2 linked regions of the Homo sapiens genome follow. The protein of the gene in region 1 interacts with the protein of each later gene in a pairwise test. Each region holds a gene or a part of one and is shown on either strand. Other genes may lie near its edges. The genes, in order: MAP2K3 and PDGFRA.

Region 1 (3,915 bases):
GTGTGCTGAGAGAGTGACTGAGGCTGGAAGAGTGGAGCTGCCTTCCGCCAAGCCGGGTGGGTGTGGGTGAGCAGGGAGGCCGGGAGCCTAGGCGATGCTGGGCTCATACTGGTCACTTGCCCCTCAAAGAGCTGTGGCAGGGTCAGGGCATCTGAGTCCAGCCATCGGGCAAGGTCAGGGCTGCTTCACCTGTCCTCACTCGTCACTCATGAAGAGCTCAGCATCCTCTGTGCCAGCCCCTAGCCGATGGGGCCCCTGCAGCCTGCGGGTGCCCCCTGCGCATCTCCCAACCTTCCTGTCAGGAGGGTCCTCAGGAGTTCACTGGGGAAGAGGGAGCAGGTCCTTGCAGGCAGGGAGCCATCTGCCAGGGTCAGCTGGCATGAGGGTGTCTGTCGGTCAGCAGGGCCGGCTGTTGCCATGGAGCTGGTGCAGGTGCATCCTGAAGCTCTGGTGGAGGGACCCAGCGAGGCTGTGTGCTAATCCTCTTCCTCCCTGGAGACACCTGGAATTAGGGATCAGATAGAGGAGGCTGGCGCCCGAACCTGGCAGTGCAGGCAGAGTTGGAGGGTGGGGGAAGCGGGCAAGTGGGTGGTGGGTGGGAGCCCGGTGAACTGTGGCTGAGTGGGTGGGCACACGTCGGAGAGGGGGCTGGGGCTGGGGCTGGTGCTGGGGCAGGCAGTGCAGGTGGTGCAGACACGGGCAGCCCGGCAGCCTGGCTGAGCTCTGGGTGTCACCCACAGGGAGACGTGTGGATCTGCATGGAGCTCATGGACACATCCTTGGACAAGTTCTACCGGAAGGTGCTGGATAAAAACATGACAATTCCAGAGGACATCCTTGGGGAGATTGCTGTGTCTGTGAGTGGCCTGGGTGGGCTGGCGGGGGGTCCTAGGTGCATAGGCAGAGGCCCAGCCCTGCCAGCAGGCATGGAGCCTGCCTATTGATGGTGTCTTGGGCAGAGCTGGGCATCAATGTGCCCCCTGAACCTGGGCAGCTGCCCTGCATAGGCCCTTCTCCTCCACCCCAGACCAGAGCCTTTGTGCTTAGGAGACCTCCGCTCCTGGGGCTCCTGGAGCCCCACAGATTTGGCAGATCCAGGTGTCTGAGCCATTGATTCCAACTCTTGAGTTCCAGATCATTTTTTAAAAAAGGAATTTAGTATTTACAACAGCGTCATACTAAAAATGCCCCGGGGCAGCTCACAGAGGTACAAGCTAAGTTGGGGGAAAGGTTAGCATCCAAAATGTGTGCTTTTTGAGTCTAAAAAGTCCTTGAGGGAGGGCAGCAACACTGGGCTTGAGCATTCCAGTAGCCAAAGGAAAAAGGAAAATAGAACCAGTGAGACTGGTTCAATCCTCACTGCATCTGGAAACATTTACAATATACCCCTGCCTCAGGCTCCCCACCCAGCCTTCCCAAGGGAAATGGCTCCAAGCTGCTAGAATACTGGCTCTGCCACGGGAGGGGAGATGGGACAGGGAGGCTGCCAAGAGCTGGGTTTTACCCAAGAAGAGTGTGGCAGGCAGTGATGATGCCTCCCTGGGAGGTGAGCCCGGGAGGATGAGAGGAGGCAGGAGGCCGAGTGTGTCTGCACCAGGATTGTTAGGATGCTGGGGCAAATGCCAGGACAGGGCAGGAGGCTGGGATGAGAGGGTGCGTAGCCTGTGCAGCGGGAGCGGGAGACAGGTGGACATGGATGGGGTCTTACTGCTCTGTCGTTTTTGACGTGACCAGGAATAACAGAGTCCTGTCTCTTCCCTCCTCCCCACCCCACCGCCAGATCGTGCGGGCCCTGGAGCATCTGCACAGCAAGCTGTCGGTGATCCACAGAGGTCAGTGCCCGGCAGCCACCCAGGCACGGTGTAGCCAGTGGGAGGGATCCCAGGCCAAGGCGGGTGGACGTCTCCCTATGAGCAACTGTGGCTCCGAGAGGTGATAGGTTGTGACGTGCCCGATGGGGTTCCAGCCGCTTTCCACCTGCAGCCCTGCAGCTGCCTCCCCTCAGGTTTGCTGGTGCTCGAAGCAAGGACTGGCTTGACTTCTGTCCTGAGAAAGGTGGACTGGGTTCTGTTCTGATGTATAGTTTACAAATCGTGAAACTCCAGCATAGAGTGCATATAATCATGTTCACACCCATGCAACCACCTCCCTCCAAGATGCAGGACAATTCTCTCACCCCCTCCCAGAATGTTCTCTTGGGCTCCTTCCCTGCCATCCCCCATGTGCCTAAGGCACCCACAAGTCTGGTTTTCCCACAGTGGGTTGGTTTCGCCCTTTCTGGAACATCAGCCTCGCTTGATGTTTCTGGACCCACCTGGGTCTGGTGTGGTCTCAGTTTGTTCCTTTTTGCTGCTGAGCACAAGTCTATTTTTCCAGATTTACTGCTTTTCAAAAAATGAATTAGGCTTAGTTCCCATTGTCCACTGGGTGCCCATCCCAGCCCCCCAGGTCACTGTGGTTGGCGGTTGGCACGGAACCTTCTGGTCCTTTTTATGTGCATTTCCATCTTTACACACATCCCCATGGAGGGCACGGGGATGTGAGTGTCCTATGCGCATTTGTATGGAGAATCCCTGCTGGGCTGCTCTCCCATGCTGGTCTGTGGGGACTCCATGTCCAAACACGCAGATCCTGCCTCCCAGGCTTTAATTGATCCTGCTGCCCTCTGGGAGCACCCACACAAGCCAGGCTCTCACTGGACCTCATGTCTGGAGGGCGGATGCAGGCACGGTGCTCCCAGCAAAGCACCTGGAGTCCTGCCTTCCTTGCAGTGGCCGGGCCGGGCTGGGCACGTCCTGGCTGTTCCCTGAGGACCAAGTATGACTCTCAGCTGGCCCGGCACCTCTTGCAGCCTCAGTTCCCTGGTCTGACCCTTGGGACCCTGGTGCAACCTGCCCACTGGGGCATGGGAGGGGGCACAGGAGGGGTCTTGGGCGAGGGAGGGGGGCACAGCTATGCAGAGCATGGCACCTGCCTCCAGTCGTGCTCCACAGACGTGGCTGAGGCATGTCCCTCCCTGGCAGATGTGAAGCCCTCCAATGTCCTTATCAACAAGGAGGGCCATGTGAAGATGTGTGACTTTGGCATCAGTGGCTACTTGGTGGACTCTGTGGCCAAGACGATGGATGCCGGCTGCAAGCCCTACATGGCCGTGAGTGGTCCCCAAGCCCCCCAGGCTCAGGAGAGGATGGGGCGGGGAGAAATCTGCCCAGGCTGGCCACCCCGGCCATACCCTCTGTCCGTAGGGGCAGAGCCTCCCCACACTGCGTTTCCTGCTGTAGTGGGGCCACCTGTGTCTTGCTGCCCAGGGGCAGCCCTTCTGTACCCCGTTGTTAACTGACCCCCACAGTGCCCCAGTTGGGTGATAAGCTCATGGACCACCTCTGCGGAGGACACTGGTGGGCTGTGCAGGTCCCGCCCCGCCCTCATTGTCAGGAGGGCCTTAGGGGCCTGCTCCCGGGTAGGGTCAGACCGATGCAAGGGTTGGGCCTTCTAAGCATGACCCAGGCCCTCCTAGCCTCAGTTTCCTCCCCCGTCACATGGGCAGGTGGGCTAAGCTGAGCGCTCAGTTTGGGGATTGGGAGGCAAGGCCTAGCCATGGGGGCTTACCTGGGGCGGGTGTTCACGCCTCACTCTTCCCTCCTGCAGCCTGAGAGGATCAACCCAGAGCTGAACCAGAAGGGCTACAATGTCAAGTCCGACGTCTGGAGCCTGGGCATCACCATGGTACTGTGGGGGGCCAGGGCCTGCCCTTGGTGGTCAGGTGGGGTGGGTGGAGCCGTGCCTGGGGCCCTGAGCTTTTGGGGGACTCATCAAATAGTTTAGGTTCTGGAAAGAAGTATTGGCTTCAAAATCTGAGAAGAAAATGTGCCATCAGAAATTACCATCTATTTAAGGGAACCTCCTAGGGTCAGG
Region 2 (3,768 bases), on another chromosome or scaffold:
ACCCATTTAGGTAGATATGAAGCAAACGTAGAGATGTGTGTATGGGAATATATATACACAGATGCATACAAAGGGAACTGGAAGTTTAAAAGACACACCAAGTGGTGCAGCTCTGCCTCTTGGAAACAGGACAGGGACAGGGAAGAAGACACGGTGAAAAAAATAATTTAACATTTTACTTCCTACACTTTTACGACAGTTGAATGTTGTACAGAGTTACTGCAGTCCTGTATTCCTTATGCAGGGGAAGAAAACACCACAGGATAAAGATGAACAATCAAAAAAATGATGAGACCAAAGATGAGCCAAGTGCCAATCATCTTTAAGTCAAATACTGTGTCGTGGAACAATCTAGCTCATATAATGTCTTAAACCTTAGATATTCTATTGGTTCATCAAAAGCCTAATAAAGGCCAGGCGTGGTGGTTCACACCTGTAATCCCAGCACTTTGGGAGGCCGAGGCAGGCAGATCATCTAAGGTCAGGAGTTCGAGACCAGCCCGGCCAACATGATGAAACCCCCATCTCTACTAAAAATACAAAAATTAGCCAGGCATGGTGGCAGGCGCCTATAATCCCAGCTACTTGGGAGGCTGAGGCAGGAGAATTGCTTGAACTCGGGAGGCAGAAGTTGCAGTGAACTGAGATCACGCCACTGCACTCCAGCCTGGATGACAAGAGCAAAACTCCGTCTCAGGAAAAAAAAAAAAAAGGCCTAATATAGAGTCCTACAAATGTTGCTAAGAAAGTAAATAGAACAGGATTGCTTTAATTCTTATGATTAAACTAAAAACAAAAATGCTGAAACCTTAGTATAACTTTAAATTATATATCATTTATTGAAATATAAAGATCTTCATTTACACGTTTTAAAACAAAAACATGAACAGGGGCATTCGTAATACATTTTGTATTGGTAGACCCTATCAAGTTAGTTTTTCTCACACATTCACCACACCATTGTTTTGGGAACATGTAAGTATCTTTCTTTTTATTATTTCTAAAATATAAATTTTGGACATTCAAAAGTGCAACAGTTAATGTGCCTGTGGGGATTATCACAGTTAAAAAAATATAAACGAAGGCAGTGATACAGCTTGTCATAAATGTTTTGGCAGTATTCTCCAAGTCTATATAGAAATACATATATACATATTGATGTATAACATCATTTTATCTTATGTCCCTCTTCACAAAAATAGGACCATTTTGTACAGATTGGCAGACCACATTTTAAGGACATCACTAATCGTTTAAAAAGTCACAAATAGTGTTTCTCAGGCCGGCTTTGATTGTCATCATAAAAATAGAAAGTAGGAAAGATTGGCAAATTTTCTTCTGGAGACTTTGCAGGAGGCCAAAAGGAAACAAATCTGGAATTTGCTGAAAACACACACACACACACAAATGCAGTCATATACAAATTCAGGTGGGAGCATTTGTTAGGACTGGAAACTGCTGGACTGAGAAGTTTCATCCGGCCTCATGATGTCATGCAAGGCTCACAGCAATATCAAAATGCAAAGCACCAACAAAATAAGGCTGTACAAGGGAGAGTGAGCGATAAACAGAATGCTTGAGCTGTGATTCTAGAAACACAAACGTATTTCAAGTCTAATTGGCTCTACAGAACCTAGTCAGGTTTTCGTTTTTAATTGGCCAATCTGGCTCAGTCTTCGCACTTACTATGAAAAAGTTGGATAAGAAAGTTGGGGCTTGCATTGAGATTACACCAGTAGGTAGTCAAGTACTTTATTATTGCTTCTGCATCTTCCAAAGCATCATCTGCCGATAGCACAGTGATTGCAGTAATCACAGCCCATGTTTCATTCATATGGTATCAGCAATTAAGCAGTATTGCAAAGAATGCCAATGAACCCACACCAACCTGTTTGACAGTGTGGATAGATGTGACAATTCATCCTCCCATCTAACCTCAAATTATCAGTAAAACTTAAAATGTTTTTTCCACCAAAACACTGAGCTGGTTACACAGAGACTTGGAACACTGAATTGCATAATTTTTGTACATGCCTTTCCTTGGCGGGGTATGGAGTGGGAGGCAGAAGACGGGAGACGGGGAAAGTTCAATCTCCCCCATACAGTGGGAAGTAGCATCTTTACTTTTGGAAAACCTGTCAAAACCAAACTTTAGCTTTCTCAGCCTCAGCTAAGACTGGAAAGTTAAATTAAGGTCGCAATTGCTAGCTAGATGGCATTAAATGTCACTAACCTGAAGCCAAGGATTTAAATAGTAGGCTTCCTGCGTGGTTGAATGCCAACCCTGTTCCAAAGTTCAAATTATTTGTTTCCCATGGCAACTTCCTGAAACCTAAGTCAGTGTTTCCGAAAACTGGCCGATCAGAACAGCCAGGGAGTTTAGAAAAATACAGACTCTGGTTTCCCTCAGACTTCATACTTCAGAATCTCAAGGATGGAAACCCAGGATCTAGTCATCCTGGCTGCCACACACATTTGAGAACTGAGGATCCAGGCTAATGCACATCCAGCCTCCACTAAAGAATATCTTTATGGTCTCGAGTTTCAAACTCTTTCTCTTTGGGGTAAGGGGTGAAAGAAGGAGGCTGATGTCTGGGCATCCTTCTGACCCTTTTCAGGTTCATAGATTCAAAAAATACATATATTGGGGTCGCCAAAGCTTTCATCAGGCATGAAGAAAAAAAAAAAAAAAACTTCTGCAAATCCAGTCTTTTTGCTGATCATTATATTTTCCATTGGGTAATATACATGAGAAGTTATGTTCAGCACAGGTTTATGCCTCTACATTGAGAACTTTTAGGACTTAAGAGTTTTGTTTGTTTCTAATCCCATTATTTCAGAGGGCAGTTAATTGTTTTTTAATACGATGGATTGGGGAACCTATTCAGTACAGTTAAAAATTCTGACTTCCTGGACAACACTACTTTTACTTTGTTCTCTATGCTCAACTAAATTTAATTCACTAAAGCTATTACCATACTTTATAGAGAAACATGTTATTTAATATAAATGTCAAAAACTGTCAAACTCATCACCTACTTAGTAAGGATTGTTTTAAATTGTGCTTTCTCTGGAGGGAAATCATGTTACATTATTACACATTTAGCATTACTGATAACAGTAGTAGTATTATAAACATAGATTACAATATGAAAATGAGTTGTCAGGCTTCTAAATGACCCAAATCTATTAAACAAGGTTGGTTAATTATTATTCTTTATCTCTTTAACACTAAAAAAGATAGCAAAATGCTATAGTACCAGTACCTTTTAAGGTTCAAAAATGGTTTTTCATGCACTTCTTTAAAAAGTTCAACAGCAGCTGACATCAGGTTTCAAGAGGGAAGTACATGGATGGATTGAGTGGTCTCTTCAGAAGTCCAAAGAAGATAGTTAATACAATCTAAACACAGCCTTGGTTAGAGTTATTTACATAATTACAATGCTGAAGTTCTGTCGCAGTATAAATTGTGTCTGTTGGACTCTCACCAATGTCCTTGAAGCACAAAGTTCACCTTCTGTGGCCTATTATTCCCTTATCCATCTATCTCCAAACTTCACACACCACTGAGATGCTACTGAGGCATTGCAAGAGGCAACACTGACAAAGTTCATTTCAAAATATCCCATTCATTCATATTTAGAACGCTCCCCGAGGCCCTTGGCTGGGAACTTCTCTTTAAACATCAACCAAGTCCTCCTCTCAACCTCTGCATTGCAATAAAGTGGTTTTCTGAACGGGATCCAGAGGTGGCCCCAGAAGTGGAAG

The links.
Region 2: the proteins of MAP2K3 (region 1) and PDGFRA come close enough for resonance energy transfer, tested with the Homo sapiens proteins (2 studies listed by BioGRID).

The regions. Positions count from the first base shown.
Region 1 is NC_000017.11:21,301,403-21,305,317, forward strand, and holds part of MAP2K3 (dual specificity mitogen-activated protein kinase kinase 3), read left to right. Parts: intron 1-740; coding exon 741-857; intron 858-1,780; coding exon 1,781-1,832; intron 1,833-3,023; coding exon 3,024-3,151; intron 3,152-3,648; coding exon 3,649-3,726; intron 3,727-3,915. UniProt on the Homo sapiens protein: Dual specificity kinase. Is activated by cytokines and environmental stress in vivo. Catalyzes the concomitant phosphorylation of a threonine and a tyrosine residue in the MAP kinase p38.
Region 2 is NC_000004.12:54,295,293-54,299,060, reverse strand, and holds the end of PDGFRA (platelet-derived growth factor receptor alpha isoform 1 precursor), read right to left. Parts: 3' UTR 816-3,768; downstream 1-815. UniProt on the Homo sapiens protein: Tyrosine-protein kinase that acts as a cell-surface receptor for PDGFA, PDGFB and PDGFC and plays an essential role in the regulation of embryonic development, cell proliferation, survival and chemotaxis.